Homo sapiens: one gene and its partners. The protein of the gene in region 1 binds, or shares a complex with, the protein of each later gene. Each region holds a gene or a part of one and is shown on either strand. Other genes may lie near its edges. The genes, in order: MED1, MED13L, MED13 and MED12.

Region 1 (7,964 bases):
TGTTGCCCAGGTTGGAGTGCAGTGGCGCAATCTGGGCTCACTGCAACCTCCGCCTCCTGGGTTCAAGTGATTCTCCTGCCTCAGCCTTCCGAGTAGCTGGGATTACAGGCATGTACCACCAAGCCCGGCTAATTTTGTATTTTTAGTAGAGATGGGGTTTCTCCGTGTTGGTCAGGCTGGTCTCGAATTCCCAACCTCAGGTGATCCACCCGCCTTGGCCTCCCAAAGTGCTGGGATTACAGGCGTGAGCCACTCCGCCCAGCCAGCATTTTCATTTATTTTTTTTCTTTTTTTTAAATTTTCCTCTCTAGCCCAGTTCAATAACTTTTTTTTTTTTTTTTTTGACACAATGTCTCCCTCTGTTGCCTAGGATGGAGTAAGTGGTGTGATCAAGGCTCATCACTGAAGCTTCGACCTCCCAGGCTGAGGTGATCCTTCTGCCTCAGCCTCCAGAGTAGCTGGGGACTGACTACAGGCACATGCCAGGAGGCTTGGCTAATTTTTTTCTTTCTTTTTTTTTTTGAGACAGTGTTTCGCTCTGTTGCCCATGCTGGAGTGCAATAGTGTGATCTCGGCTCACTGCAACCTCTGCCTCCTGGATTCAAGCAATTCTCCTCCCTTAGCCTCCCAAGTAGCTGGGATTACAGGCATGCACCACCACATCTGGCTAATTTTGTATTTTCGGTAGAGACAGGGTTTGACACTCCAGCCTGGTCATCAAGAGTGAAACTTAGTCTTTAAAAAAAAAAAAAAAAAGGTGGATAGATAACAGTCCAGTGGTATGGTATTCCTTACATCAGACCCATAACTTGTGTGTCATCTTGCCATTAAAAATGTCTTCTTTGGATGTTTTGAAGTAAAATGATTTTGGAAAATATTTTAACTGAATTCTTACTGTGATGAAGTGTGGGAATTTATTTTGCAAGGAAAACTGTGGATGGTCTTGATAGAACAGTTACTGATAACGTTTTCTGATTTAAATCATAGAGTCAGAAAAGCTGAGTAAGATGAGTTCTCTCCTGGAACGGCTCCATGCAAAATTTAACCAAAATAGACCCTGGAGTGAAACCATTAAGCTTGTGCGTCAAGTCATGGTAAGGATTGTGGTGAAGTGGGTAAAGTGTTTTGCTTAGATAATTATTCTTAATACGCTAAGCTCCCCATGTAGATGTGTTCATACTATCTTCATAAAACATCTGAATACATGGTGGTTTCAACTTTAGGAGTCTATTGTATCTATACTACAGGTTGAATATCCCTTATATGAAATGCTTGGGACCGGAAGTGTTTTAGATTTTGGATTGTTTTGGATTTTGGAATATTTGCAAATATATAATGAGATATCTTGGGGATGGGACCCAAGTCTAAACACATAATTTATTTATGTTTCATAAACACCTTATAGATATAGCCTGAAGGTAATTTTATACAACATATTTAATAATATATTTAATACTTTTGTGTGTGAAACTAAGTTTTTTTTTGTTTTTTTTTTTTATTGAGACGGAGTTTCACTCTTGTTGCCCAGGCTGGGTTGTAATAGCCCGATCTCGGCTCACTGCAACCTCTGCCTCCCAGGTTCAAGTGATTCTTCTGCCTCAGCCTCCCGAATAGCTGGGATTACAGGCATGCGCCACCACGCCCAGCTAATTTTTATATTATTTGTAGAGACGGGGTTTCTCCATGTTGGTCAGGCTGGTCTTGACCTCCAGACCTCAGGTGATCCACCTGCCTTCGCCTCCCAAAGTGCTGGGATTACAGGCGTGAGCCACCGCGTCCAGCCGTTTTGACTGCATTTTGACTATGACCCTGTTATGTGAGGTCAGGTGTGAAATCCTTGGTGGCATCATTGGGAATGCTAAAAAGGTTTTGGATTTGGGAGCATTTCAGATTTTTGATTTTCAGATTAGGTATGCCCAGCCTGTACTAGTAGAATTTTTGATTCATTCTTTTTTTTGAGACCAGGTCTTATCATCCAGGCTCAAGTGCAGTGGCGCGATCATGGCTCACTGCAGCTTCAACTTCCCAGGCTCAGGTGGTTCTCCCACCTCAGCCTCCTAGTATCTGGAACAACAGGTGCATGTAACCATGTCCAGCTAGTTTTTTTTTTTTTTTCTTTGAGATGGAGTCTTGCTCTGTGGCCAGGCTGGAGTGCAATGGTGCGATCTCGGCTCACTGCAACCTCTGCCTCTTAGGTTCAAGAGATTCCCCTGCGTCAGCCTCCCGAGTAGCCGGGACTACAGGCACACGCCACCACGCCTGGCTAATTTTTTGTATTTTAGTAGAGATGGGGTTTCACCATGTTGGTCAGGATGGTCTCCATCTCCTGACCTCGTGATCTGCCTCCCAAAGTGCTGGGATTACAGGCGTGAGCCACTGTGCCCGGCTGCCCAGCTAGTTTTTTATATTTTTTGTAGAAATCGTTTTTTTTTTTTTTTTTTTGAGATGGAGTGTCGCTTTGTCACCCAGGCTGGAGTGCAGTGGTGCGATCTCGGCTCACTGCAAGCTTTGCCTCCCGGGTTCATGCCGTTCTCCTGCCTCAGCCTCCCGAGTAGCTGGGACTACAGGCCCCTGCCACTATTCCCGGCTAACTTTTTGTATTTTTAGTAGAGACGGGGTTTCACCGTGTTAGCCAGGATGGTCTCGATCTCCTGACCTCGTGATCCACCCGTCTCGGCCTCTCAAAGTGCTGGGATTACAGGCGTAGCCACTGCGCTTAGCCAGAAATAGGTTTTTACTCTGTGGCTCAGGCTGGTCTCAAACTTGTGGGCTCAAGTGATCCACCCACTTTGGCCTCCCAAAGTGTTAGGATTACAGTGTGAGCCACCGTGCCTGGCGGATTCATTTTTTTTTTTTTTTTTTAAAGATGGAATCTCTGTCTGTCACCTAGGCTGGAGTGCAGTGGTGGGATCTTGGCTCACTGCATCCTCCGCCTCCTGGGTTCAAGCGATTCTCCTGCCCCAGCCTCCTGAGTAGCTGGTATTACAGGCATCCGCCACCATGCCCAGTTAATTTTTGTATTTTTAGTAGAGATGGGGTTTCACCATGTTAGCCAGGCTGGTCTTGAACTCCTGACCTTGTGATCCACCTGCCTCAGCCTCCCAAAGTGCTGTGATTACGGGTGTGAGCCCCTGTGCCTGGCCCAGGTTGTCATTTTTATTCCTTAAGGCAACCAAATTCTAGCTTGAAATATGTTCTGTAAATGATACTGTCATTAGAGAGACATTGTGAGATAGAAGGATTCCAGGTGGCTAATAAGGCCCTCTCTTTGGGTACCACTCTCTTGGTTTGGTCACCATGACTTTGCTTGTCTACTTTTCAGTTTTGCAGATTCAGAAACCTAATTTTATTGGTACATCAAGATTTTATAGAGTTTTCATGGCTGGGCGTGGTGGTTCACATCTGTAATCCCAGCACTTTGGGAGGCTGAGGCGGGTCGATCACCTGAGGTCAGGAGTTCGAGACCAGGCTGACCAACAAGGTAAAACCCTGTCTCTACTAAAAAGACAAAATTAGCTGGGCATAGTGGCAGGCGCCTGTAGTCCCAGCTACTCGGGAGGCTGAGACAGCAGAACCGCTTGAACCCGGGAGGTGGAGGTTGCAGTGAGCCAAGATCATGCTACTGCACTCCAGTCTGGGCATCGGAGCGAGACTCCATCTCAAAAAAAAAAAAAGAGTTTTCAACAACTGACATACTGTATGCTTATTTATTAATTTATGACAAAACATTTAGTTTTCCAGTTTTCATAATACTGGTATTCATTGACCAGAGCACCTCTTCTCCTGTCAAGAATCAAGAGATTTCAGATTATTAATAAATTACTTTGTTTTGTAAGGGAGAATTAGAGCAGTGAGATAGATTTATTTGCAACATGGAAAAGCCTGGAAAACTATCCTTATACCAGAAAACTGTTCACGTTTTTAGGGACTGGAATGTTTTTCAGAGAGAAACTTCTTCACTGGATAGGGTTAGGAAAACTAGGCTAAGTTTTTTTTTGTTTGTTTGTTTGTTTTGTTTTGTTTGAGATGGAGTCTCACTCTGTCACCAAGGTTGGAGTGCAATGGTGTGGTCTTGGCTCACTGCAACCTCTGCATCCCCGGGTCAAGCGATTCTCCTGCCTCAGCCTCCTGAGTAGCTGGGACTACAGGCGCGTACCACCACACCTGGCTAATTTTTGTATTTTTAGTAGAGATGGGGTTTCACTATGTTGGCCAGGCTGGTCTCGAACTCCTGACCTCATGATCTGCTCGCCTTGGCCTCCCAAAGTGCTGGGATTACAGGCGTGAGCCACTGCAACCGGCCTCAAACTAGGCTAAGTTTTTGTTCTTTGGAAGTCCCTTTTCTGGACTACATGTTCTGTTTCTTTTCTTTTTCTTTTTTTTTTTGAGACAGAGTCTCTCTCTGTCGCCAGGCTGGAGTGCAGTGGTGTGATCTCGGCTCACTGCAACCTCCGCCTCCTGGGTTCAAGTGATTCTCCTGCCTCAGCCTGCTGAGTAGCTGGGACTATAGGCGTGCACCACCACGCCCAGATAATTTTTGTATTTTTAGTAGAGACGGGGTTTCACCATTTTGGCCAGGATGGTCTCAGTCTCTTGACCTCGTGATCCACCCGCCTTGACCTCCCAAAGTGCTGGGATTACAGGTGTGAGCCACCGCACCCAGCCTATATGTTCTGTTTTTTAGAGTCAATCTCATTTTCTTAAAATTTGGTTGTGTTTCTCAGATTACATGCAAATCACCTTGTTAAATTTGTACACTACCAAATCTCCTGAGCCATCTTATTTAACTGTTTATATCTTAGCATGTGGTCACTTCCACAGGCGGCAGATCTCATGTATTACATTTTGATTCTTCCTAATATTTCTCTAAAGGTTTTTTTGTTTTAGATGTGGAAATACAACGTTTTCTTTTTTGTTTTTGACTAAATAGAAACAGGATCTCTCTATCTTGCCTTGGCTGGTCTCGAACTCCTGGACTCAAGTGATTATTCAGCTTTGGCCTCTCAGTGTGCTAGAATTACAGGCATGAGCCACGTGCCTGGCTGAGGAATACCTTTTTCTACACTCATATATATGGATTTTGCATGGATGGACAGAGTAACACTTGTAGACCAGTGTTACTCTATATAGTCTACAAAATCTATAGACTATATTGAGTCTATAGACTGTCCTGCAATATTACTACTAGGATAATGTGTATGTTTACCTAAAACACTGTTGGCCTGGTTAATTTTCACCTCAAATGTTTTCCCACTTGACACAGGAGAAGAGGGTTGTGATGAGTTCTGGAGGGCATCAACATTTGGTCAGCTGTTTGGAGACATTGCAGAAGGCTCTCAAAGGTTTGTGAACACTTTTGAAATATGCTGATTTCACAAAACCCCCAGTTCAAGAAGGACCATTTTATACTTAAACTAGAAGTAAAAAATTGAGGTAGGTCAACTTTATGTATTAGATATTGCTCTTGCATTCATTTATGGAGTTGGAATGATCTTTTTGCTAAAGTTTGAAACATTTATTTTTGATCCTGTTTTGGAGGCTGATAGAGATTTAAAAGATAAATGATGAAGGGTAATATAAGATACCTGGGGAGGCTGGGTGCGGTGGCTCGCTCCTGTAATCCCAGCACTTTGGGAGGCTGAGGTGGGCGGATCACAAGGTCAGGAGTTTGAGACCAGCCTGGCCAACATGGTGAAACCCTGTCTCTACTAAAAATACAAAAATTAGCTGGACGTGGTGGCGGGCACCTATAATCCCAGCTTCTCGGGAGGCTGAGGCAGGAGAACAGTGTGACCTGGGGAGGCGGAGGTTGCAGTGAGCCAAAATCACGCCATTACACTCCAGCCTGGGCAACAGGGCAAGACTTGTCTCAAAAAAAAAAAAAAAAAAAAAAAAGATACCTGGGAAAAGTTTTTTTTCCCTTCACATTTATTTCTGATTAATCTCGATAAGAAGATGGACTTTTTTTTTTTTTTTTTTTTTTTTTGAGATGGAGTTTCACTCTTGTTGCTCTGGCTGGAGTGCAGTGGTGGAATCTCGGCTCACCACAACCTCTGCCTCCTGGGTTCAAGCGATTCTCCTGCCTCAGCCTCCCAAGTAGCTGGGATTACAGGCATGTGCCACCATGCCCGGGTAATTTTATATTTTTAGTAGAGACAGGGTTTTCCATGTTGGTCAGGCTGGTCTCGATCTCTTGACCTCAGGTGATCTGCCCACCTTGGCCTCCCAAAGTTCTGGGATCACAGGCGCGAGCCACAGCAACTCGCGAAGTTTTTTTTTTTTTTTTTTTTTTTCCGAGACGGTGTCTCACTCTGTCACCCAGGCTGGAGTGCAGTGGCACAATCTTGGCTCACTGCAACCTCCACCTCCTGGGTTCAAGCGATTCTCCTGGCTCAGCCTCCCAAGCAGCTGGGACTACAGGCGCGTCCCACCACGCCTGGCTAATGTTTTGTATTTTTAGTAGAGATGGGGTTTCACCGTGTTAGCCAGGATAGTATAGATCTCCTGACCTCGTGATCCACCCGCCTCGGCCTCCCAAATTGCTGGGATTACAGGCGTGAGCTACCATGCCTGTCCAGAAGATGGACATTTTAACTCTAAAAAGATTTTTACGGTGTTTATGGAGCAAATTTCCAGGAAAGCAAATGTAAAATATAAGTCATGAGCTTGATTATTCATGCTTATAATGACTAATTCTATTTTTGGGGAATAATGAAAGTAAAAACAGATTTTACTGTGATCCACCAGAAATGAACCTAATTCAGCTGAGGGTTTTTTTTTTTTTTTCTGGAGACAGTGTCTCACTCTGTCGTCCAGGCTGGAGTGCAGTGGCACGATCTCTGCTCACTGCAACCTCCGTTTCCCGGATTCAAGTGATTGTTCTGCCTCAGCCTCCTGAGTAACTGGGATTACAGGCGCCCATTACCATGCTCAGCTAATTTTTGGATTTTTAGTAGAGATGGGGTTTCACCATGTTGGCCAGGGTGGTCTTGGACTCCTGACCTCAGGTGATCTGCCTGCCTTGGCCTCCCAAAGTGTTGGGATTACAGGCGTGAGCCACTTTGCCCAGTCTCAGCTGAGTATTATCTTCTTTACCTTTTTTTGTTTTCTTTTTCTTTGAGACAGAGTGTCGCTGTGTCACCCAGGCTGGAGTGCAGTGGCACGATCTCTGCTCACTGCAACCACTGCGCCCCCACCGGGTTCAAGAGATTCTCTTGCCTCAGCCTCCCGAGAGGGTGGGATTATAGGCGCGCACCACCACACCTGGCTAATTTTTGTATTTTTATTAGAGACAGGGTTTCACCACGTTGGTCAGGCTGGTCTTGAACCCCTGACCTTGTGATCCGCATGCCTCGGTCTCCGAAAGTGTTAGGATTACAGGCGTCAGCCACCGCACGAGGCCTTTTTTTCTGTTTTAATTGTGGTAAAATATAGGTAACAAAATTTACCATTTTCTTTGTTTCTAAGTGTATAGTTCAGTAGCGTTAAGTACATTCATATTATTGTATAATCATCACCACTGTCCATCTGTAAAACTTCACTCATCTTCCCAAGCTTACATTCTGTAATGTCCCATTCCCGCCTTCCCCCAGTCCCTGGCAGCCACCATTCTGCTTCCTGTCTTTATGAATTTGACTACTCTGTATACCTGATATAAGTGGAATCATATATTTGTCCTTTTGTGACTGGCTTATTTCACTAAACGTAATGTCTTCAAGGTTCATCTATTTTGAAGCATTTATTAGAATTTCTTTCTTTTTTAAGGTTGAAAAATACTCCTCTTTATGTATATACATTTCATTTATCCATTCATCTGCTAGTGGACACTTGGATTGTTTTAACCTTTTGACTGTTGTGATTAATGGTGTTGTTAATGTTGAGTTTTTTTTAATGTTAGTTTTAATGTTAATCTTCCTTATTCTATCATTAGCAGATAAATGTGTCTTAAGTTAAAGGCAGTTTGT
Region 2 (7,964 bases), on another chromosome or scaffold:
GTGAGCCACCGCACCCAGCATAAACAGAGACTTTTAAAAACAAATGCATTACTTATTGCTTGCATGAAAGGTACATTTTCAATTGATGAAGCTAGCTAAAAGAATTAAAAGATAAGAAAAGTGTCAGTTGCAGCAAAACATAGCCTCTTCCAGGAGTCTCTTATTAAGGGGAATGCTGCAAATGAAAACATGGCTTCTCTGTGAGCAGATCTTGCACTACTGGCAGCTCAGGAACTTTTGTGCTGTGCACATACTGGTGTCACATTGTCCTGGTCAGGCTGGTGCGCTTGTGTGTCTTTGGCTGGTTGCTGGTGAAAGAGCACCTGCGTGTGGTAGAGCCTTCTGCTGTCAGAGATTGTAATCTTTCCATTTTAGTTTGTTACATCATAATGCCATGAAATAGATCTTACATCCCTTAGAAAAGAAACCCAAGCAAATAAATCTGTACTTACTTGACTGAGGCTGTCAGTTTTGCTGGTATCTTCTCTATGTGTGCAGCAAAGACGATGCTGGCCCCGCTTACCTTTCTCAGTCACCTGTTGTTTTCTGTGAGATGCTGCCACAAAGGGGATCACTCACTGCAGTGTGCAGAGTGAACTGATGAAAGTTCATTTTTCAAGCTTTAAGATAAATGCTGATCATGTTTTTGGGATTTTTGTTTTTCAGAGCCAGGGTGAGCGTCTTCTTTCTAGAGAAGCACCAGAGGAGCTAAAGCAGCAGCCCCTGGCCCTTGGGTATTTTGTATCAACTGCCAAAGCTGAGAATCTTCCCCAGTGGTTTTGGTCATCGTGTCCCCAGGCTCAAAACCAGTGCCCTCTCTTCTTAAAGGTTGGTTTGGTGTCATATTAGAAGTTTGCAAGGAATGAGTGATTTACGCTTAAATTTAATTTTGGTTAGAAATTTCAGTTTTAGTCACCATAATCTTATTCTGTTCCTTTTTTCTCTTGTATCTACTTATACTCTGAGGAAATTTTAATTACAGTTGTAGGTGGAGAGTAGAATTTAGGAGGACCCAAAACCATGTCACAAAGAAATGAATCACTGTAGCCCAAGGAGGAAACAGTGGGGCCCAGAGGGTAAATCTAGGATGGATGCATGGGGTTCAATGTGATGGTCTTTCTCCAAGTCTATATTGCATCACTATCAGTAAAGTTAAGCCTGTGTCGAAGGTATAATAACCAGCCATCCTCTTCTTCCCCTGCCAGGGACTCTTCACATTCTTCATTAGAGAAGAGTAAGAGTCAGCTAAAAACATCGCACATTTACACTTGCTCCTTCCTTTATATTTCTTGGAACCTTTTAATCCCAATTTTAAGGGTTCAAAACAAAAGATCCCCTACTTGCAGTTTATGTTAAAAACAGCAATACCTAGAATGAAATCCATCTCTTGCCCACAGATTGGCAAAAATACAAAGATTTGGCAGCATACTGTGTTGGCCAGATGTGGGGAGCAGGCCCTGGTGTTGGTGGGATTGCTGAATGATATAGCCCTACACACTTCCCTTTCAGGGCAGCAATCCCACCTCTAAGGAATAGCCCAAAGGTTCTTTGCCAAAACAGAAAATGACATATGTCCAAGACTAGAAAGAACCTAAGTGTCATCAGTGAGGGACTGATTGAATCAACTGTGGTGCATCCAGACAGTGAAATATTAATCATCTACAACAAAATGGAGACCATTTCTATGTAATCATTCTGTGGAGTAGAGATTACCATGGAGTAATCTATAAGATATGCACATTCACACACATATACACGTACACACATAGCTGTGTATATTTTCAGAAAGAAACGATGGAAATTAAACCAAAAACTTATTAGACAGTGAAGCAATGTTCTTTTCCTAATGACTTTAACATACTATTATAAAATCAAAGAAGGTTTATAAAAATGCATGTGTTCTTTATTTTGAATTAGAATTATCAATATGAGCATAGATTTATTTTTCCTCTCTAAAAAAGTATACACATTTTTTTAGCTCTGTCTGCTGAAAAAGCTTAGCAGCAATAAACACCTCTGTTGCCACGAATGTGGTTCCTGCACACCGTTGTCATTTAAAGGAACTGTGGTTCTTTGAAGAGATGACTGATTCCAGATATGCAGCAGGAAATATTCACAATGAACCTGAGGCATCTTGTCACACCTAAAAGGAAGAAAGTTACCAAAGATTATTATGGTCCAGCAGGGCCTCAGGAGCCATCTTAGGGGGCAGCTCTGTTGTCCAGGGATAGGATGGGACAGTGTGATCATTAAAAAAAATGATGACAGTGATAGAATGAAACAAATCCTTGGTTCATAATTGTGTTGGAAAACAAACAAAAAATCAGTCATCATTTGTTGCTAGAGCATCAACTCAGTCTGAAAAATAAAAAAATAAAGAGAAAGAAGCATTTATATGTTGCCTCTCCTTTACATGTAAAGTAATACCAAAACCATTAGGTGAAAAGTTGATGAGGAACTTTATGATGGATGTAGTGTCCTGGTATCACCTGAACCCAGTGATGAATCATGTGACTTCAAGTGGGACAGTAGACATTTCATGCCTTTAATCATTTGTCATGTACAGATCATGTTGGCTCATGATTTTAGTAAACCAATTATAAAAAGACATTTTTGAGATAATGGAGCATTATCTTCCTCATTATCCTACAGATGGGGTGATAATATTAAGGAATCATTGTTAATTTTTCTGTGATAATTACTGTTATGTTTAAAGGTCCTTATGTGAGACATCTACTGACTTTTTACAAGCAAAATAATACAATATTTGTTTTTTTGTGGGGAGGGTTTTTTGGGGGTTGGTTTGTTTGTTTCTTTTTTTTGGAGACAGAGTCTTGCTCTGTTGCCCAGGCTGGAGCACAGTGGTGCAATCACAGCTCACTGCATCCTCATCCTCCCAGGCTCAAGCAATCTTCCAGCTTCAGCCTTCTGAGTAGCTGGGACTACAGGCACACACCACCATGCCCAGCTATTTTTTTTTAATGTTTTATAGAGATGGTAATATTTGTGTTTAATTCAGAAAAAGAAAATGAAAACAGAAAAGTGGTGAATATTGATAATTGTTGCATCTTGGCGATATCAATTCATGGGACCTTATTATATATTATAGTATTTTTGTGTGTGCTAGACTATTTCCATTGAAGAAACAAAATGTAGTAGACAAAAAAAGCCCAAAAAGTTTGCTTTTTTTTTGTTTTTTTCCAACTCTAGGATAAGAAGTTATTTGGGATTACCTTGGGGGTTACTGAGCAGGTTAAAATTTGTAGACTCACAGAAACCCTGACTTCTACGGACTTTTGGGAGCATCTGCTTCTGGCAGACATGGCCTCCCTCACTTCTGCACTGTGATTGTCTAGACCAGAGAGGTAACTCTCTTTGTTTTTTCACCAGGCTTCGCTGCATCACCACATTTCAGTAGCACAGACAGACGAACTTCTGCCTGCCAGGAATTCTCAGCGGGTTCCACACCCTCTTGACTCCAAAACCACGTCGGATGTTTTAAGGTAGATACCAACCTAGGCATCATAGCAGTGCAATTTGAAACAATATTCCTTTACTGTTGTCTTTCCAAGGTGTTTTAATCTAAGTGTGGTATTCATAGAAGCTGCCGTTTGTGCAGTGATACAGTATCTGATGAGTCAGTGAGAGCTGCAGTCCCTCATAGCTGCATGGGACAGGCGGTGTAATACATTGGATTCAGTTAGGCAGTGATAGGCATTTATAGTTGCCTTTGCTTCCTGTTCAGAGCAGGCACTTCATGGTGATGAAGAGAGGTCAGATCTTGGGGGTGGATAGTTAGAAGACAGTGTCTGGAACTCTTAAAGCACCTCACATTGAAAACACTTTTTATGCTTCCTGAGATAGATTATGTATTTTTGTTTGTTTATTCGAGATGGAGTCTCGCTCTGTCACCCAGGCTGGAGTGCAGAGGCGTGATCTCAGCTCACTGCAAACTCCGCCTCCTGGGTTCATGCCATTCTCCTGCCTCAGCCTCCCAAGTAGCTGGGACTACAGGCACCCGCCAGAATGCCCGGCTAATTTTTTGTATTTTTAGTAGAGACGGGATTTCACCGTGTTAGCCAGGATGATCTCGATCTGACCTCATGATCTGCCTGCCTCAGCCTCCCAGAGTGCTGAGATTACAGGCATGAGCCACCGATTATGTGTTTTTTTAAAAATGGACTAGAACATAAATGACATAGTTGAGAAGTGCATTCCAGAAGTGTGTATTAATCAAGCCACAGGCATTCTTCATCTACCTTGAGAAAATATACAGGCCTTTTCTAATGTTTTCTAACTCTTAAATGGTTAGGAAATGATAGGAAACTATATATTATAGATTAATGTATAATTATAGTTATGGATAAAAATAAAGAACCTGATCAACATAAATTTGGCTTCCAGGCCCCCTAGAGCAGGGGTCCCCAACCCCCGTCCATGCCTTGTTAGGAACCAGGCCCCACAGCATGCGGTAAGTAGCAAGTGAGCGAGCATTACAGCCTGTGCTCCGCCTCCTGTCAGGCAATGACATTAGATTCTCATAGGGGCACAAACCCTATTGTGAACCGCACATGCAAGGGATCTAGGTTGTGTACTCTTTATGAGACTCCTAATGATTTAAGGTGGAACAGTTTCATCCTGAAACCATCCCCCACCACGTGGAAAAATTGTCTTCCACGAAACTGGTCCCTGGTGCCAAAAAAGGTTGGAGACTGCTGCCCTAGAGGAACACTGTCCAATAGAAATACAATGTGAACCTCAAATCTAATTAAAATTTTTCTGTTAGCCACATTAAAATAGTAAAAAGAAACTGGTTAATTTTAGTAATATATTTTATTTAACTCAATATACTCAAAATGTTATTTCAACATGTAACAATATAAAAATATTCATGAAATATTTTACATACTTTTCTTTTTTTCGTTTTCTTTTTCTTTTTTTTTTGGAGACGGAGTCCTGCTCTGTCACCCAGGCTGGAGTGCAGTGGCATGATCTCACTGCAACCTCCGCCCACAGGTTCAAGCAATTCTCCTGCCTCAGCCTCCCAAGTAGCTGGGATTACAGGCATGCACCACCACGCCTGACTAATTTTTGTATTTTTAATAGAGATGGGGTTTCACCATGTTGGCCACCTGGTCTTGAACTCCTGACCTCAGGTGATCCACCCCCACCTCGGCCTCCCAAAGTTGCTGGGATTCCAGGCGTGAGCCACTGCACCTGGCCCCTAAGTGTTTGGGCTCCAGTGCCTACTTTACCTGCAGTCCACGCAAGTTCCTACTGGCCTCACTGGCGGAGCTCAATGGCCATGTGTGGCTGCTGGCTACTGTACTGGATAGTCCATATCTAGAAGGAAGGAGGAACATGAGACAAAGGATGAGGGAAAGAGCCTGGGGCAAGTTAAGGAATGCCTTTGAGACCTCCTTCCTGCTAAGATCTGGAATGTATTAGAATCTGAGAACCAGCCTTCCCTCTTGAGGCTCACGCCCCTGCTCTGTGTGTTCTCTTTGGCAGGTTTGTTTTGGAGCAGTACAACGCTCTGTCCTGGCTCACGTGCAATCCGGCCACCCAGGACCGTACTTCCTGCCTTCCCGTCCACTTTGTGGTGCTCACTCAGTTGTACAATGCCATCATGAATATACTTTAATTGGAAAAGCACTTGTTCTCTCTGGCTCAGTTCCTTCTCCCTGCAACCTCAGTCCAAGGAACCTGCTACACTCTGCAAATAACCCACATCCTTTTCTTCAGACCACTCTCCACAGTCCTGCACTGTGATTCCTTCTCAGCAGGCACATGTCAATTCTGCAGTGTTCATTACCAGAGTGACTCCTTGACACTTCTCTCATGGACCTGGAAACTTCCATAAGTGGTGACTTTCAGCCAGTGCGGTGGTGTGTGTAGCCCCAACCACTGGTCCCCAGGAAGTGGTGGTGGTTGATGGCTTTTCAGCGGGAAACAGAAGAGACAGTGTCCTTTTGCACAAGAGTCTGTGTTTTCAGCCTCTGTATACAATTGAGGGCAGTCTAGCCCTTTGGATGAAATCCTCTTAGTTACTGGTGTATGGCCTGTGGGTTACCTGAACTCCATAATCTGGGACTTTTTAAAAATAAGAACCAGCTCAAGTACATGGTTTCATACTGGGGTTTCTGTCTCCCTAGTGTTCCCATCCAGATTAGCATGAGTGCTTTGGTTGACTTCAAACCTGTGTGTCAATGCAGAAGGTCTGGAGACAGCTTCATTTTGTTTATTTATTTTAATTTGTTTTGTCATATGGTTTTTGTGACTTTATTTTTTTAATTCACAAGGACCAGGTACAGTAGCTGAAACCCAATTCAGATCCACCATAGGATTCTTTGACTACATACCTCTGTCCTAGAAGCCGGAAAAGGAGTAAAAACACATTGGGGAGATCATGCCTAAAAGTAATATATTCAAAACCACCCAGCAGTAGGTTTTGTTAACAACAAACTGGATTTTAAAAGTTCTGCCATGTTAAGTGGCCAGCATTTCATGAAGGATAACATTTTTATACAGAAGGCAGTCAAGCTCAACTCAGAGCCATGGAGGCAAGTACCTTAATTAGTTTTATATAGTCACAACGGAAATATATTTTCTAGTGAATTCTTATTGGAAGCCAGGTCTCTCCTCTCATTAGATCAAAAGGGACTTATGTACATACAACAATTGAAAGTGTTTGCTCATGAAATCAGTTATAAATATGGTGAATTTTTTCTGGACCATAGGAATATTATTTCAAAGAAATATTACAACTTAACCATTAAATTAGTACTTGAAGTTGAGCCTTTGTGGTGGGACTTTTTAAAAAAATGCCTTTTTAAAGCATTAATGGCTAATTGAAGTATTTTATGACTCCTCATTCCTGGCCCAGAGGGTTGTCTTTGAAACCCTGTTTCTAACCCTTGTGTTGTGTGTTTCTGTCTGAGGACAGTGGGTGTGTACTGGCCTCCCGGGAGCCACTGTGACCAGGCCTTTGAGCTCTTGTCATCTGTGGAGAGAATCATGCAAATTTTAAAAGTTCTTCCAAGAGACTTCCATGTCCTGGTTATTAACAAAAAAGGAAAAATGTAATAATTGATATGATTTTGTAAAAGTATTTTTCTTGAAATAATCTAAAGTTTAAAACATTATATTAAAAAAAAAGTTGTGTGGTGGGAATGTGAAAGCAGAGAAATAACTTGTAAATGGATAATTTTGTTCTCTGTACCACCAGTTGAAGGGGGGGTTGACTTTCGCAATGTATAGGATAAAAAATCTGATATATCAAACCATTTGTATCTAATGTGTACAGTGTAAAATTGACTTTAAAAATATTGCAGTGCTATTTTTTCTTAATCAGAAAGGAAAATTCTCAAGGCCTTTTGAAGAGCATAAGAAGATGAAGATTGTAAACTTGTATAAAATTATCTTGGTGAGAAGACAAATTGTAAAGTAGATATTTGTAATCTTTTACCACTTTGGGGTTGCTTTTTTCCCGGAATTCATCAGAACTTTGAATTTTTTTTTTAAATGGGCTGTTTTTAATGCAGGGGCTTTTCTTCCCTAGAAACCCAATTCTAAGCAGAAAAAGAAAAAAAACACAAAAAATAAAAAACCCCTACAAAAAAACTTTAAAAAAAATGGCAGCAAAGGGTAGTTTTCATCTGGTGTCTTTTATTTAAGTTTTTTAAGTTAAGAAAAGCTGGTGACATATTTATACGTTTTTGTGCAAAAATAAATGAATGGCAATAGATTTTAAAAAATCTTATTATGTACTTCTGTGTGAAAAAGTCTGTATAATATTTCCCTTAAATATGCATTATTTTACTTGTGAGTTTTTTACTGAATTAATCTGAAATGTACAAGCCCTGGATTTGCTACAGAGTGAGAAGTTATTTTATTTTTTTTTATTTTTAATTTTGGAAATTCTGCAGAAATCAGAACTCTTACCATGGTTTGAACAAAAAAAG
Region 3 (7,928 bases), about 23 Mb from region 1:
CTCTACCATCTCATTCAGAATGGAGACCCTACAAGACAGAAGGGGTTACAAAACAGTTTTAAATGCAGATCATTGAGTGAATCCATATTTCAAAGAACAGAAGACAGTCGGTGATTATTGACCCAGATTATTGACCCAAAGTAACCTCTAAAATTAACCTTAAAATTCCTGATTGGCTCCTATTTTACTTGGATTATCTCTTTTAATCATTGCAACAACTCTGACATTTAGGTGCTATTATTACATACACATTCAACAAAGGGGTAAATTGAAGTTAGGGAGCTAGCAAGCATGGAGTTCTGCTTGTTTGCTTGCTTTTTGAGACAGGGTCTCACTCTGTCACCCAGGCTGGAGTGCAGTGGTGCAATCTTAACTTCCCAGGCTTAATCAACCTCCCCACCTCTACCTCCCAAGTAGCTAGGACTACAGGCACGTGTCACCACGCCCGGCTAATTTTTTTATTTTTTTTGCAGCGGGGGGTTTCGTCATGCTGCCCAGGTTGGTCTCAAACTCCTGGGTTCAAGCAATCTGCCCACCTCAGCCTCCCAAAGTGCTGGGATTACAGGCATGAGCCACCGTGCTGGGCCAAGTATGGAGTTTTGACCCCAGTTGGTCTAACTGTTCAAGTGCCATTATAAGCAAGATTATGAGCTGCTTGTATATGCTGTATTTTGTCAATACATGACCTGACACATACTAGATGGTTAATACATGTGGGTAGTTAAGTGGTCATATAGTATGATCTCAACCATGTAGGAAAAAGATACATAGGGAAAAGTCAATACATCAAAATGTTAAAAAGTGATTAATTATGAATGGTAATGATACGGACTTTTTTGGGTAATGTACATTTAAAATTTTCATCTTTACGCTTTTATGTATCTGCCAAACTTTTGACAATGTGTGTGTAATGTTTTTATTTATTTATTTTGAGATAGAGTCTCACCCTGTCACCCAGGCTGGAGTGCAGTGGCGTGATCTTGGCTCACTGCAACCTCTGCCTCCCGGGTTCAAGCAATTCTCCTGTCTCAGCCTCCCAAGTAGCTGGGACTATAGGCATGTGCCACCACGCCTGGCTAATTTTTGTATTTTTAGTAGAGATGGGGTTTCACCATGTTGGCCAGGCTGGTTTTGAACTCCTGACCTCAGGTGATCCACCTGCCTCGGCTTCCCAAAGTGCTGGGATTACAAGCGTGACACAGCACACCTGGCCGACAATATGTGTGTAATGTTTTTAGTTATTTCCATTACTTTTTAAAAATCCCATATAACTCCTGCCCCCACACATACACAGCCTCCCTCATTATCAACATCCCCCACCAGGATGGTATACCCAAAGTCCGTATTTCCATTACTCTCTTTTTCTTTTTTTTGAGAACGGAGTCTCACTCTGTCGCCCAGGCTGGTGTGCAGTGGCGCGATCTCAGCTCACTGCAAGCTCCGCCTCCCGGGTTCACGCCATTCTCCTGCCTCAGCCTCCCGAGTAGCTGAGACTACAGGCGCCCGCCTTTTTGTGTTTTTAGTAGAGACAGGGTTTCACCGTGTTAGCCAGGATGGTCTTGATCTCCTGGCCTCATGATCTGCCCGCCTCGGCCTCCCAAAGTGCTGGGATTACAGGCGTGAGCCACTGCACCCGGCCTCCATTACTCTTTAAATCACACAAAATGTCATTTTTACCGAATGTAAGTGGTTACTGATACGTTCTTTGTGGGCTGAAAATATTTATTTCTTCTCTTTCCCTTCTCCCAATGATTCCATTCCCCTCACAACTGGGATCCCCCCCATTCTAATCTGCTTCTCCATTCTCTCAGTCCTGTCTTTCTCTCTCTCTCCTGCTCCCTTCTGCGATCCTCCATCAGACTTTTTCTTCTGGGTCTTCCTCCCTTCTTCGCTTCTGTCTCCTTGTCTCCCTCTTCTTTTTGAAAAGATTGACATTCAAACAGAAAGGTCAATCAAATGTTACCTCCTACTGGTAGGTTTCAGGTATATTCTACCTGCCATTGGAATCCTGAGGATGGTGCTCAAGTCAGGGGGTGGGGGCAATGGGAGGGCAAGACTTCTAAGGAGAATGGAGACCCCTTTAGATGTGAGGAGGGCATTTCAGCCTGAGGAAAGCAGCGGAACAAAGATCTGAGGAGTTTTTCAGGGAACGGGAAATGGGCAGAGGAGCGCTTACCTCATTGGATCTGGGGATTGCTGTCTCCTGGTGCTGGCACTCGGTTATAAAGGATGCCAACCTTAGTTGATTTGAGCTCCTGGATTGAATTAGTCCTGGTTGCATAATTGACTTTGATATGTGGACTTTGGGTTCGAATTAGGTTTAATAAGATTTAACTGCTTCAAAGGGCTTTATAAGAATTCATTTTATCCTTCAAATCTGATTTCAAATGCTACCTACTTTATGACAACTTCTCTAAGTTTGATGCTCTTCTTCTAGTGCACTTACTATGCCATAGTAGGTACATACTTTATTCAAGCAATTACCCCCATTGTATTTTACCTTATTCTGTAGGAAATGTTTCCTTTAGTGCCTCTCTTCAGGAATCTTGAGGGACAGGCAGGTATCTTATTCCTATTTGTATCCTAGGCCTAGCACAGAGCAGGAACACACTCAATTGAGCCAGCAGGTTCTCAATGATTTTTAAAATTACATTAATAATTAACATTAAGTAAGCACTGTGGCAAGCACTGTATCTACATTGTTTCATTCACCAGTCATTTTAGAAGAAAAGTACTTTTATTACCCCCATTTTACAATAACCGAGAGAAAGCAAAATTAATTTGATCTAAGGTCAAATATGATCTAAGACTAACTAGTGAGGGGCAGAACTTTTTCTCCAGGCTTTGGGCTTCAGATCTGGGCTCTTCACCACCACAGATGAACAAGTGGATAAATGAGGACTTCTTTTCATTCCGTGGCTGAAGAAGTGACATGGAAGAGTCTACCATTCATTTTACAGATACAATTATGTATCTGTAATACATAATACATAATTATGTATCTGTAATACATAAAATTACAGTAAGTCCTAACTCACTGATGTTTCTAACTTCTGAATCATCTTTTTCTTCTTCTTTCTTTCTTGCAATCCTAAAACCGTCAGAGAAACTGTTTTGAACTCATATTGAAGTGTAACCCATCCAAGCACTGGGTGTTTTATGGGAAAGAGAATAAACCTTTTGTTTGGTTCTTACTTCTTACCACCCATTCATTTGTAACTATACAAATATCAAGCACCTACTGTGTGCTAGGAACCTTTTTTTAGGCACTAGAGAGACAGAAGTAAACAACAAAAAAATAGTGAGACCTTTACATACACTAGTTCTCCTGCTCGTCACAATAACTATATGAGGTAATGATGACAACAATAATAGTTAACTCTTAACAGTGCTTATCTGTGCGGGGCACTGGGCTACCTGCTTAATTTGTATTAACTCATTACAATAAGCTTGTGGGGTAAGGGATATGTTTTCCCCATTTTACAGATGAGTAAAGACACAGAGCAGGAAGTGATTTGCTCAAGCTTGGAACCCAGGCAGTGTGGCTCTAATTCCCAGTCTATTAACTACAGGGCAATATTTTGTTTCTTAAATTTATATCTTCATATCACAACTTTTAGGTTGAGGAGTCTTATCCCCATCCAGATCATCTGACTCCCAAATCCAGAGGTTTGCACCTGCACCCCAGCGGCCTCGCGAAATAAATGAGAATGTCTTGGAATTTTTGCCAATACTTTCTCTTCCAAAGAACTCAAACTGATTTCCACGTAATTCTCACTGATTTGTGAAATGAACCTTCCTGGACTGTAAATTTCCCCGCAAAGAGAGGGCCAGGGCCCCGGGTCGTTTTATACTGGCCGGGGCACCCAGCAGATGGCGCTATGTTAGTGGCCACCAGCTGGCTGCCCCGTCCCCCGAGCTCACCGCCTCCGCCGAAAGCTTCCCGGCCCTCCCTCGCTCACTTCTCTCTCCCCCTCCCAACCGAGCCCGGGCCCACGTGACCTCAAGGCGGCCAATGGGTGAGCAGAGAGGGCGAGCTGGTCCCTGTGGCCGCCATTAAAGCGAAGGGAAAACCCGTGAATTCGGATTAAAGGGGGAAAAACACCGCCCGCTGGGCCCACAAAATGGGGGAGACTACGGCGTCCAGCCGGTGAGGCCACAGGAGGGCAAACTTTAGGCCGGCTTGGCCCAGGAACGACACGAAGACAGAGCCAGAGAATGGTCTGAGCCCGCAGACGCCGCCACCACCTCCGCCGCTGAGGAGACTCTGGGCTTAAGGACATCGCCGCTGCCGCGCCGGGGGCCTGGGCTTCTCTCCCGGTTCTCGCCCTTCCCGCTCCTGTGCGGGCGCCTCTCCGCCCGGGAGAACCGTCCTGGGCTTGGGCTCTGCCGTCTCGGACTTGATTTTGATTATTTATTGTGTAATTTATTATTTTTCTTGTGGTAGGGGCACACATCCCCTCCGTCCCCCAGAGAGGGACGAGCGTCTGCGGGATCCGCAGTCCGGCCCGCCAGGCGAGCGCGGCGCGGCCCTCCCGCCTCCGGCCCTCGGCCCCGGGCGGCTGGGTGCCGGCCGGGCGGCGGGGGCTGCTCGCGGCGGCGGCGGCGGCGGCGGCGGCGGGGGGGTGGGTGGGGAGGGCGGGCGCCCGGCGGCCTCCTCTTCCACCGCCCCCCCAACCACTACCCCCCCCCCGGCCCTCCCCGGTGTCTGTGTTTCTCTCTCTGGTCGGAGGCGGCGGTAATGGCGGATGGTGGGTTGTGGCGCCGGCGGCGGCTGCTGTGAGGGACGATGAGTGCCTCCTTCGTGCCGAACGGGGCCAGCCTGGAAGATTGTCACTGTAACCTCTTCTGCCTGGTGAGTGCCGGGGCCGGCGGGCGCCGAGGGAGGGGGGCCGCGAGGTGCGCCCTTGGGCCGTGGGGGAGGGGGCCGGGTCTGGTCCAGATGCCCGAGTTCCCGGGCGAGGCCCAGCCGGAGCCGGCGCCCTGCGAAGCTCCGCGGCCAGCCCCGGGAGGCGGCGTTCGCTCTCCTACGGTCCCGGGCTCTGTTTAGGGGAGTGTTGGCATTTTTTCTCGTCTTGTTTCGGACTCTCCTTCTCACCGTAGTCTCGTCCTCAACTTGAGCTCCTTATCTGGCAGGACAGTAACCTTTCCCTCTTGTCTTGCTTAACTGTTGCTTTTCTCCTTATTGGCCCTGTATCCCTGCTTCACACTTTACATTATTGCCCCTGCTCCCCACCGCCTTTATGTCTTACCCTTTTAATTTGGTTTCCCCATGTAAACAGGACCCCAGAACTTAAGCCCTAGAAACCTGTCTTGGTTTTACATTTTTTTTGTATGAGTCAAACTAACGCCAGGTTAGTTTCTTTCTTGGGTGACTTAAGATCTCTCTGTAAAAGCCAGTAGGTGCCATTTCATATGTTTTCTTTTTAAACTTTGAAAACAGTTTGCCATTTTTGACAATTTCTAGCCATCTTGCTTTTATTAGAACATGATGTTTTTGTGAGAGTGAAGGGGGCTAGTGGACGAGGTGCTGTGGTTTTGCACTGTTTCTATATTTATTGTGTTTTGGTTGCTTTTTCAGAATGTTTTGAGCAGGCTGCTCCCTTGTTTGATTGAAATGGAAAGTCGAGAGAAGCGGGATGTAGGGATGATCATTGTGTAGGTTAGCCCAGGTCTGGTAACATCCAACAGTTAAGGCTTTCAGAAGTACCAACTGTTGCAAATAACTTGTCCTGTATGGGACAGTAGCTGAGCTTCATCAATGACTTTAAGTTTGGGTGACTTTACTTTTTCATTTTCTCCTTTGTGCTATGAGAAATATTAAGAGTATATGATAGGTAAGTGAGTTAAGTGGGAGGAGCACAACTAGTTGGCAAGTGTAAACTGCCAGTCATGTATCAGCAGTTTCATTTTTGGCACCTTATGCTTTGCTCCTTTAAGTTAGATTAAATTACTGAATTCCTCTTGTCGAATTTCTTAACGCCCATGCTAAATTGAGATCTTTAATACTCTATCCTCGTCTACAGTATGTTTTTCTTTTCAATGTCCATTAATCAGCATCTCTTCACATGTAATAAGACATACACCAGGTTTTATATTTCTATCTTATCCAACTCAGTCTATTTTTGGTACTTTTAGGATCAGTTCTTTGAAGATAGACTAGCACAAATCTGACAGTTCTTTGTGAGTAGCTATTTGACTTTTCCGACAGGGGTGTGTGTGAAGAATTAACATAGATTTTTTCAGAACTTGTTCAGATGTCTTTTCATTAGAGACGTTACTTCTGTAAATGTGGAATAAAAACCCATGATAGGGTCTTTAATAATTGATTTTCAGTTAAAAGTTTGACACCAGTGAACAAATGTGACCAGTTAGGACAGAGAAAAATGTACTCTGTTTGCATATTGAAGTGTGTGTCTATATTTAACATCATTCAGTTTCTTCTGTTTCTACTTGGAGTACATATTTGCTTGCTATTCAGTGACATGGTGGTGGTAATTTTTAACTGTATTCTTCTCCCTAAAATTCTTGGTTGTTGAATTATAAAGTCTTTTTTTGTTCTAATTTGCAGTCAATATCTCAAGCATACATTGAAAAATTGTAATGTCTTAATGAAATAAGAGACATCATATTGAGTACTTTTGACTTTGAGTGAATATGCAGTAATAAAACTTAATGCTTTCTTTCCTTCAGGCTGACTTGACAGGAATTAAGTGGAAAAAATATGTATGGCAAGGCCCAACTTCTGCCCCTATTCTGTTTCCTGTGACAGAAGAAGACCCCATTTTGAGCAGTTTTAGTCGCTGCCTTAAGGCAGATGTACTTGGTGTTTGGCGGCGAGATCAAAGACCTGGAAGAAGAGAATTGTGGATATTTTGGTGGGGTGAAGACCCCAGTTTTGCTGACCTTATTCACCATGACTTATCAGGTGAAAGAAACTTTCCATTTCTAACTAATGATATAGCAACATTGTATACTTCTCCCAGAATGTCATATGTATTACAAATTAAGTTTGTTTTTGTGGGAGACTTAGGAGGCCAGATAAAAATTCAGCTTCATTGTTTTATTTCACCATGATTATTTTATTTTACTTAAATTATCCATGTTGTTATAGCTGGGTTTTTAAGGCGTGAATGACTTTCTCCTTCCACCACCTCTCTTCTTAATTTCTCACAGGTAGTTAGGGCCCGAAGAAGGCATGTTACATTAATCTAAAAAAATGGAATCAGGAAACAGAGTTCCTAACAAAGTCGTGTAATAGTTTAGAAGCCAGATGTAACTTTTGAGTCACTTCAGCCACTGCTGAAGTTGAGTCTTTTGCATTGAATAGGCAGATGATTCTAAAAGTACTGGAAATGTAACTATCCGTGTGTGTGTGTGTGTGTGTGTGTGTGGTGTGTGTGTGTGTGTGTGTGTTTTAAGGCATGTATTTTGTTATTGTCATTTGTGCTATTTGATTAACTTATGAAGGCATATGTTAATTTAGTTATTTTTGGAAAGTGACTCATATACTGTTCTGTCAAACATAATAAGAGAAAAGTGCCAACTTGTTTAGCTTTTATGGGACATGGGATCATAATCTAAAAGGTTACACAAACAATTTTATTGTGAGCAAATCAATGTGATTACTTCCTTATTTTCTTGACTTTTAGGACCAAATGCTACTTTAGAAAGAGAAACTATAGCTTTTCATATAATTACTGAAGCTTTAAATTGTGAAAGTCAGTATTAACTGAATCTTAGATAATAGGAATATAAATGATTGGTTGTATGCTATAAGGTTCCAAAGACTTCAGTAAGATAGTTTGATAATGATTTTTGACAGATAAACTTAGGATTTCTAGATAATTTTTTTTAAGTTCTTATTTGAAATTGAGTACTCTGAAGTTTTTGTTATTGTATCTCTGACCTATAGGATCTATTTTATT
Region 4 (7,964 bases), on another chromosome or scaffold:
TACAACCTTGATTATTTAGTGGGGCAGAGATGAGAAGTTAATGGGTCTGAGGTTTTGTGGAGCAAGGTTTTTCCTGAGGGCATTTGTACTTTTCCCTAGGGTGAATGACATCGCAATCCTGTGTGCAGAGCTGACCGGCTATTGCAAGTCACTGAGTGCAGAATGGCTAGGAGTGCTTAAGGCCTTGTGCTGCTCCTCTAACAATGGCACTTGTGGTTTCAACGATCTCCTCTGCAATGTTGATGTGAGACTTGGGGTGGGGTTTTGCTAGTGGGGCAGTGACCAGGGCAGGGGGCTGGTTGTGATCCTCTGACCAGGGACAGAGTTCCGTAGAGTGGAGGCACACCGCTTTGAGTGGGCCTCCACACTGAGTCATGGTGTCTGTCTGTTTTTTCCTCCAGGTCAGTGACCTATCTTTTCATGACTCGCTGGCTACTTTTGTTGCCATCCTCATCGCTCGGCAGTGTTTGCTCCTGGAAGATCTGATTCGCTGTGCTGCCATCCCTTCACTCCTTAATGCTGGTGAACTACCAATCTGTAACCCCTAGCATTTCTAGACCTCAAATTTCAATACACACTGGACGGCCATCCTCTCATTGTTCACTGTGGGAGACCTTGCTGCGGCTCCCTGGCCTTCCTCAGAAGGCCAGTCCTTTGGTATGCTGAAGGCTAGAAGAAACCTGTTTTTTAGCCCTGGATTTGCAGCCCTGACCTTTCCAATTTCTGACCCTTCAACTGCGTAACAGTTCTCTGCTCTACCTCGCTTTCAATATTATCTTGCTTTTTCTCCTTTCACTTTACCTCATCTTCTCTCCCATGCCCCTGCCATACACTTGCATGCATGCAGGCACGCACACACATAAACCCACATACAGTTTAACTTCATCCCTTCCAGATCTGTTTTGTCTTCCTTTTAGCTTGTAGTGAACAGGACTCTGAGCCAGGGGCCCGGCTTACCTGCCGCATCCTCCTTCACCTTTTCAAGACACCGCAGCTCAATCCTTGCCAGTCTGATGGAAGTAAGTGACCCTGATCTGAACCAGCCAACAGTAGAAAGTGTGGTTCCCCTGCCTCCGTGGATTCTACTTTTGCTTCCCCTGACTTCATCGCCTTCCCCAGACAAGCCTACAGTAGGAATCCGCTCCTCCTGCGACCGCCACCTGCTGGCTGCCTCCCAGAACCGCATCGTGGATGGAGCCGTGTTTGCTGTTCTCAAGGCTGTGTTTGTACTTGGTACGGGGGTAGGAAGGGAGTGGTGCCAGAAGTGTGTATAGGGTGGAGTGCCAGCTAAACTACAAGGGACAGTCTTTCTCCCTTCTGAAGGTGGTCTCTCTGACCTTTGGGGAGGAGGGGAGGGAGAGAAGTATATTTCTGTCCCATAGGGCAGGATTTGGGGTGTTTCTACCTCTGTGGGCCCAGGGTGGGTCTCCACACGTGTTCCAATCTCACTCTGCCCTCCCTATCTCCCACCCGTGAACCACAGGGGATGCGGAACTGAAAGGTTCAGGCTTCACTGTGACAGGAGGAACAGAAGAACTTCCAGAGGAGGAGGGAGGAGGTGGCAGTGGTGGTCGGAGGCAGGGTGGCCGCAACATCTCTGTGGAGACAGCCAGTCTGGATGTCTATGCCAAGTACGTGCTGCGCAGCATCTGCCAACAGGTCAGTTTCACCTTCCTCCCACACCTCCTAAATGCCTCTGTGTAATATAGTTCTGTTTCCAGCCCATGATCACACCAGCTCCCTACTATACATTGTGTTCCTTAACAACTCCAGCCCATCCCCCATATTCCTAACCCCCTCACTGGTTGTTCCCAGTCCCTGATTGTCAGCTTCCTCAGGAATGGGTAGGAGAACGTTGCCTTAAGTCTCTGTGTGAGGACAGCAATGACCTGCAAGACCCAGTGTTGAGTAGTGCCCAGGCGCAGCGCCTCATGCAGCTCATTTGCTATCCACATCGACTGCTGGACAATGAGGATGGGGAAAACCCCCAGCGGCAGCGCATAAAGCGCATTCTCCAGGTAGGCCAAGGCCGTGGGGGCTGTGGAGGAAGCAGTGGGCCCAATCTGGGGAGAAACAATAGGAACCTTGAGAAAAGGAGAGGGGCAGTTAAGTAGAGAGGAAGACAAACAAGGATATAGGGGAGGGGAGAGGTAGCGAGAGAAACAGCTCCAGCATGGGCTGAGGAGTAAGTCCAGTAGGGTCTAGACTCCAGTGTAAGAGTATTAGGTGAGGGCATAGCTATCTGGAGTGAATCTAGCTTATCAATGGGAAGCATAGCATCTGGGAGGCCTAGGTGTGGGCCGTGTATATTTGGCATTTTGGCCATGGCTCAGGAACTGAATAGTAATAGCTACTACTTGCTGAGCATGTGCTTTGTGCCAGGTACTGTGCTAGGCACTCTGCACACATTTCCTCATTTAATCTTTATGACCCTATGAAGTAGGTGAGCCTCCCTGTTTGACCGATGAGGAAACTGAGGCTTGAAGAGGTTAAGTAACTTGTCTAACGTCACATAGCCCATAAGTTTAGAGTCAATATGTGAACCCAGACATGTCTGTGCACTTTCCTCTTCACATTGCTTCACACCTTCAGATGACCAGAGAGTGGAAAAATAAAGCCGTTGAGGAAAAGCTAAAGGAATAAGGTCTCTTCAGCCCAGAAGAGATAGTGTTGAAGAGAGATTAGCTAACAGTAGCCTTCTGGTCTCTACAGGACTTTGAGAGATTGTCTTATAAAGGTTCTGTCAGGGACTTTGAGCAGCTGGTCTAAAACAAGAGAAGCAGGCTTCAACTTTAACATCAAGGGTTTCAAGGTTAAGCATTAAGCAGAACTTCCTGATACGAAGGGATGGGAAAGATGTGAAATCTTTCCTGAACTATTTTAAAAATTGGAAAGATTTTCAACTAGTTTGGACTATTTAAATGTAGTCTTTTTTTTTTTTTTTTTTTTGAGACGGAGTCTCGCTCTTGTCGCTCAGGCTGGAGTACAGTGGTGCGATCTCGGCTCACTGCAACCTCTGCCTCCCAAGTTCAAACAATTCTCCTGCCTCAGCCTCCTGAGTAACTGGGATTACAGGTCGCCCATCACCACGCCCAGCTAATTTTTGTATTTTTAGTAGAGATGGGGTTTTGCCATGTTGGCCAGGCTGGTCTTGAACTCCTGACCTCAGGTGATCCGCCTGTCTCAGCCTCCCTAAATGTAGTCTTTCTTAAAGATGGGGACATAGAGGTCCCTTTCAGACCTCCAGGAGTCTGTGATTCAATGTTGCAGGAGATCAGGAATTGGCCTCAGATTGTTGGGTAGCTGGGGGTAACACGATGATGACTAGCCTGGGTGTGGGGCCTCTATCACAGAACTTGGACCAGTGGACCATGCGCCAGTCTTCCTTGGAGCTGCAGCTCATGATCAAGCAGACCCCTAACAATGTGAGTAGTGCCTGGACCCTCCCTTTCCTGTGCTCACGTTCAGCTCCATGTGTCAGGGAGGCGGTCCACCACAGAAGAACCTAGATCCTACCCTTGGGCTCTTGAGCTGAGAGATAAGAGGGGATGGGAAAATGGTGAACAAGTGGAGCTGATGATAAGGGAAATGGGTTGAGAGTGTTGGAGCTCTGAGCTGTGGGGAAGCTTGGTGGTGGTGGTGGAGCCTGTTTCTCTGGCCATAGATGTAAGGAGGTATGTAAAGGAGAAGACAGTGAGGAATTGGAGAAATATGGAGGTACTAGAGGGCATGATTCCCAACAGAGTTGCGTTCCTATCTCCCCATCAATCTCCGCCAGTGTTGTCCTTCTCCGTCATCTCCGATCTCTCCTACCATCTGCTTTCCTTCACCCTTAGCTACCTATTTTAGCACTTCTGTGCCTTTCATCCTCCCCAGGAGATGAACTCCCTCTTGGAGAACATCGCCAAGGCCACAATCGAGGTTTTCCAACAGTCAGCAGAGACAGGGTCATCTTCTGGAAGTACTGCAAGCAACATGCCCAGCAGCAGCAAGACCAAGCCTGTGCTCAGGTCGGATAGAAACATGTTAGGACCCATCCCCTTAGGAGTTTATCTGCTGGTAGCGTGAGTGATATCAGATGCGTGGAGATGCCAGCATGTCCATCAGGGAAAGGAGAGGATAGATTGTTCCAGCCTTGCCTGGCTCCCCTGTGACCCTGTGTCCTCTGTCTGTTCTCCAGCTCTCTAGAGCGCTCTGGTGTATGGCTGGTGGCCCCCCTCATTGCTAAACTGCCCACCTCAGTCCAGGGACATGTGTTAAAGGCTGCTGGGGAAGAATTGGAGAAGGGTCAGCACCTGGGTTCCTCTTCACGCAAAGAACGTGATCGACAAAAGCAGAAGAGGTAAAGGGGCTTAGGGAGTGGACCAAGATTGAGGGGTAGAAAGGAGAAGAGGCAGGCCCGGGGAAGAATAAAATGGGCCAAGGAGAAGCATCATAGGAAAGTGGAAAATCAGAGGATAAGAGTGGGCATGGCTGAGCAAGAGGCTAGATCTTAAGAGAGTAGTCTGGAGAATGAGGTTGGAAGTTGACTCCCAACCCACAGTCTCCCTTTTCTCCTCTCCTCTTCTCTCCTCTTCTCTTCTCTTCTCTTCTCTTCTCTTCTCTTCTCTTCTCTTCTCTTCTCTTCTCTTCTTTCTCTTGTCTCTAGCATGTCCCTATTGAGCCAGCAGCCCTTCTTATCGCTGGTGCTAACATGTCTGAAAGGGCAGGATGAACAACGCGAGGGACTCCTTACCTCCCTCTACAGCCAGGTGCACCAGGTACAGATCTCTGGGCCATGGAGGTGGGCAGGAGGTCAGGGAAGGATGCACCTAAGGGGTTACTCTGTACTTGGAAACTTCAGTACTTTCTGATAAACATATTGGCTGCTGTGGGATGGAAACACGAAGATCCCTGAGCTGCATATTTTATTTGTTTCTATTCTAGATTGTGAATAATTGGCGAGATGACCAGTACTTAGATGATTGCAAACCAAAGCAGCTTATGCATGAGGCACTCAAACTGCGGCTCAACCTGGTGAGAAGGCCAGCTGGGGAGAAGAAGGAAGAGGGTAGGGCTGGAAATGCGGAGTGCAAAAGCCTCAGGTTGGGGAGAATGGGGGTAAGGATAGAGGCCCCAGGTTATTCTGAGTCTTGAAGGGTTTTTTTTTTTTTTGGAGTCAGAGTCTCACTCTGTCACCCAAGCTGGAGTGCAGTGGCGCCATCTCAGCTCACTGCAACCTCCACCTCCTGGGTTCAAGTGATTCTCGTGCCTCAACCTCCTGAGTAGCTGGGATTACAGGTGTGTACCACCACACCTGGCTAATTTTTGTATTTTTCATAGAGATGGGGTTTGACCATGCTGGTCAGGCTGGTCTTGAACTCCTTACCTCAAATGATCCGTCTGTCTCGGCCTCCCAAAGTGCTGGGATTACAGGCATGAGCCACCGTGCCCAGCCTGAGTCTTGAAGTATTAACCTTGTTCTCTGAAAGTATGCAGGGACTGAAAGTGGTTAAGGGGGCTGGATCACTGTGGTCATGGTCCAATAGGTTATGTACCCTGGATCCTTGCAGGGCCTCTGCCTCAGTATCCTAGATTCTGACTGGGCCCTAGAAGCACTGGAAACCCACTGTGGAATGTTGAATGGAATCCTGGAAATCATTCTGTCCAATTCCCATCACTTTCTAAGTATGGAAACAGAGGCCTAGAGACGTCAAGAATTCCGTCATTGTCTTGAGATCATGTAGCAAATCATAGGCTCAACTCAAGCATGGCCGGGCGCGGTGGCTCACGCCTGTAATCCCAGCACTTTGGGAGGCCGAGGTGGGCGGATCACGAGGTCAGGAGATCGAGACCATCCTGGTTAACACGATGAAACCCCGTCTCTACTAAAAATACAAAAAAAATTAGCTGGGCGTGGTGGCAGGCGCCTGTAGTCCCAGCTACTCGGGAGGCTGAGGCAGGAGAATGGCGTGAACCCGGGAGGCGGAGTTTGCAGTAAGCCGAGGTCGCGCCACTGCACTCTAGCCTGGGTGACAGAGCGAGACTCCGTCTCAAAAAAAAAAAAAAAAAAAAACTCAAGCATGAACTCAGGCGTCCCAACTCAGATTGGAACTAAGCTTTCCTGAAACTCTGGCCTTTGTCCCTGAGCCATCTGACTGACTTGTTGTGGCCCTGGCAGGTGGGGGGCATGTTTGACACGGTGCAGCGCAGCACCCAGCAGACCACGGAGTGGGCCATGCTCCTCCTGGAGATCATCATCAGCGGCACTGTCGACATGCAGTCCAACAAGTAAAGCATCCCCACCCGCTCCCTGCAGTTTCATACCCAAGAAGCTCCCCCTACTCCCATGCCAGGTGCACCCACTGAGATTGGTGTGGCTGTTACTGTGGACTCCGTGGCCCTGGGCTCCCCATACAGTTTTGGTGCCCTTGGGATGACATATTAAGCACCTCTCCCTGCTTGTGTCCTCTGCTGAGGCCTTTTTCTATCTTCACCTCTTTCTTCTTTGGTTTTCTCTCTGGCTTCCTGTCTCAGTGAGCTCTTCACTACTGTGTTGGACATGCTGAGCGTGCTCATCAATGGGACATTGGCTGCAGACATGTCTAGCATCTCGCAAGGTAGCATGGAGGAAAACAAGCGTGCATACATGAACCTGGCGAAGAAGTTGCAGGTAAGCAGAGGAAGCGGGGGCAAGGTTTGCGGTTACTGGAATCTGCTGTCCAGCCTCAGGAACTTGCTTCTGGCTGGAGCCCTCTACCTTTCCTTCTCACGTCTGCCTTTTCTTTGTTACTCATGCCGTGAGCATTTACTGAGTGGGGGTCTTCTCTGTGCCAGGTTCTGTGCTGTCCCCTGAGACTTCCCATCCCTGTTTTCTGTATCTCTGAACTCTTGTCCCATCTTCCTGTGCCTGCAGAAGGAGTTGGGGGAGCGCCAGTCAGACAGTCTGGAAAAGGTTCGCCAGCTGCTGCCACTGCCCAAGCAGACCCGAGATGTCATCACGTGTGAGCCACAGGGCTCCCTTATCGATACCAAGGGCAACAAGATTGCTGGCTTCGATTCCATCTTCAAGAAGGAGGCATGTTCCATTGTCTGCCCGTGTCCCTTGCCTTTTTTCCCCTTTGGGCAAGAACTTTGCCTGCATCAGCTTTGTAGCTCCAACAGACTCATCAGATTCAGGAGCCCATCAGTCTCTGCCGGTGAACACCATCTCTGGGGTTTTGAGCAAATCACTTAACTTTCCTTACATTTCATCTCCATCTTTGAAGTCCCACCCTCTTTCCTTCACCCTGCCCTCACCTTTTAACATACCACCCATTTTTCAATACCCTACCCTCCTCTTTCCTCTGCTCCACCTGCCCCATGTCCTACCCCACCCATCTATCTGGCCGACAGCCTGTATCTCTTTTATTTCTGTGTTTCCCTACACCCACCCATCTCTGCACACTTTTATCTTTTCCCTCTCTGTCAGTTGCGGTATTTGTTGAGTAACCATAATTATTGTGTATAGTTTAAAACCCAAAGTCTAACTCCTTCATATATACATTCTCTTCATCTGTCTTCCTAGTCCATCTGTCTCTTTTCCTCCGTCTCTGTCTCTCTCCCTGTCTGACTCGTTTGCCTTTCTTTGTCTCTCCACCTTTTTGTCTCTCTCTTCCTGTTTCTTTCTCTCTCTGACTCTTTCTCGGCCTGCCTAAAGGCAGAGTCTCTCCCTGCCTTCCTCTCTCTCTTTCTCTGCCTTCCTTTTTCTGTCTTCCTCTGAATGTCAATCCCTCTCCCTCCCCGCTCCCTCTCTGGCTTTCTCCCCAACCCCTTTCTCTCCCGATCTTCTCTCCCCACACGCCCCCCGCCCCGTTAGTTCATCTCCTCTCCTGGTCTGGGCTGGCTTCATCTTGTGCCTCCACACCTCTCCCTGTGCCCCACCCTTCACTCTCTCCCCGCATAACTCTCTTCCGCATGTATATGTGTATCCATGTCTGTCTGTC

The links.
Region 2: MED1 (region 1) and MED13L share a complex: the UniProt entries of both Homo sapiens proteins name them as parts of the mediator complex.
Region 3: MED1 (region 1) and MED13 share a complex: the UniProt entries of both Homo sapiens proteins name them as parts of the mediator complex.
Region 4: MED1 (region 1) and MED12 share a complex: the UniProt entries of both Homo sapiens proteins name them as parts of the mediator complex.

The regions. Positions count from the first base shown.
Region 1 is NC_000017.11:39,440,928-39,448,891, reverse strand, and holds part of MED1 (mediator of RNA polymerase II transcription subunit 1), read left to right. Parts: intron 1-987; coding exon 988-1,094; intron 1,095-5,263; coding exon 5,264-5,342; intron 5,343-7,964. UniProt on the Homo sapiens protein: Component of the Mediator complex, a coactivator involved in the regulated transcription of nearly all RNA polymerase II-dependent genes.
Region 2 is NC_000012.12:115,958,946-115,966,909, reverse strand, and holds part of MED13L (mediator of RNA polymerase II transcription subunit 13-like), read left to right. Parts: intron 1-666; coding exon 667-828; intron 829-3,390; coding exon 3,391-3,503; intron 3,504-5,511; coding exon 5,512-5,644; 3' UTR 5,645-7,964. UniProt on the Homo sapiens protein: Component of the Mediator complex, a coactivator involved in the regulated transcription of nearly all RNA polymerase II-dependent genes.
Region 3 is NC_000017.11:62,062,067-62,069,994, reverse strand, and holds the start of MED13 (mediator of RNA polymerase II transcription subunit 13), read left to right. Parts: upstream 1-4,716; 5' UTR 4,717-4,789; coding exon 4,790-4,855; intron 4,856-6,693; coding exon 6,694-6,928; intron 6,929-7,928. UniProt on the Homo sapiens protein: Component of the Mediator complex, a coactivator involved in the regulated transcription of nearly all RNA polymerase II-dependent genes.
Region 4 is NC_000023.11:71,128,197-71,136,160, forward strand, and holds part of MED12 (mediator of RNA polymerase II transcription subunit 12), read left to right. Parts: intron 1-99; coding exon 100-244; intron 245-401; coding exon 402-522; intron 523-917; coding exon 918-1,019; intron 1,020-1,119; coding exon 1,120-1,233; intron 1,234-1,483; coding exon 1,484-1,659; intron 1,660-1,838; coding exon 1,839-2,018; intron 2,019-3,353; coding exon 3,354-3,425; intron 3,426-3,876; coding exon 3,877-4,010; intron 4,011-4,180; coding exon 4,181-4,342; intron 4,343-4,648; coding exon 4,649-4,760; intron 4,761-4,926; coding exon 4,927-5,016; intron 5,017-6,160; coding exon 6,161-6,270; intron 6,271-6,516; coding exon 6,517-6,652; intron 6,653-6,895; coding exon 6,896-7,057; intron 7,058-7,964. UniProt on the Homo sapiens protein: Component of the Mediator complex, a coactivator involved in the regulated transcription of nearly all RNA polymerase II-dependent genes.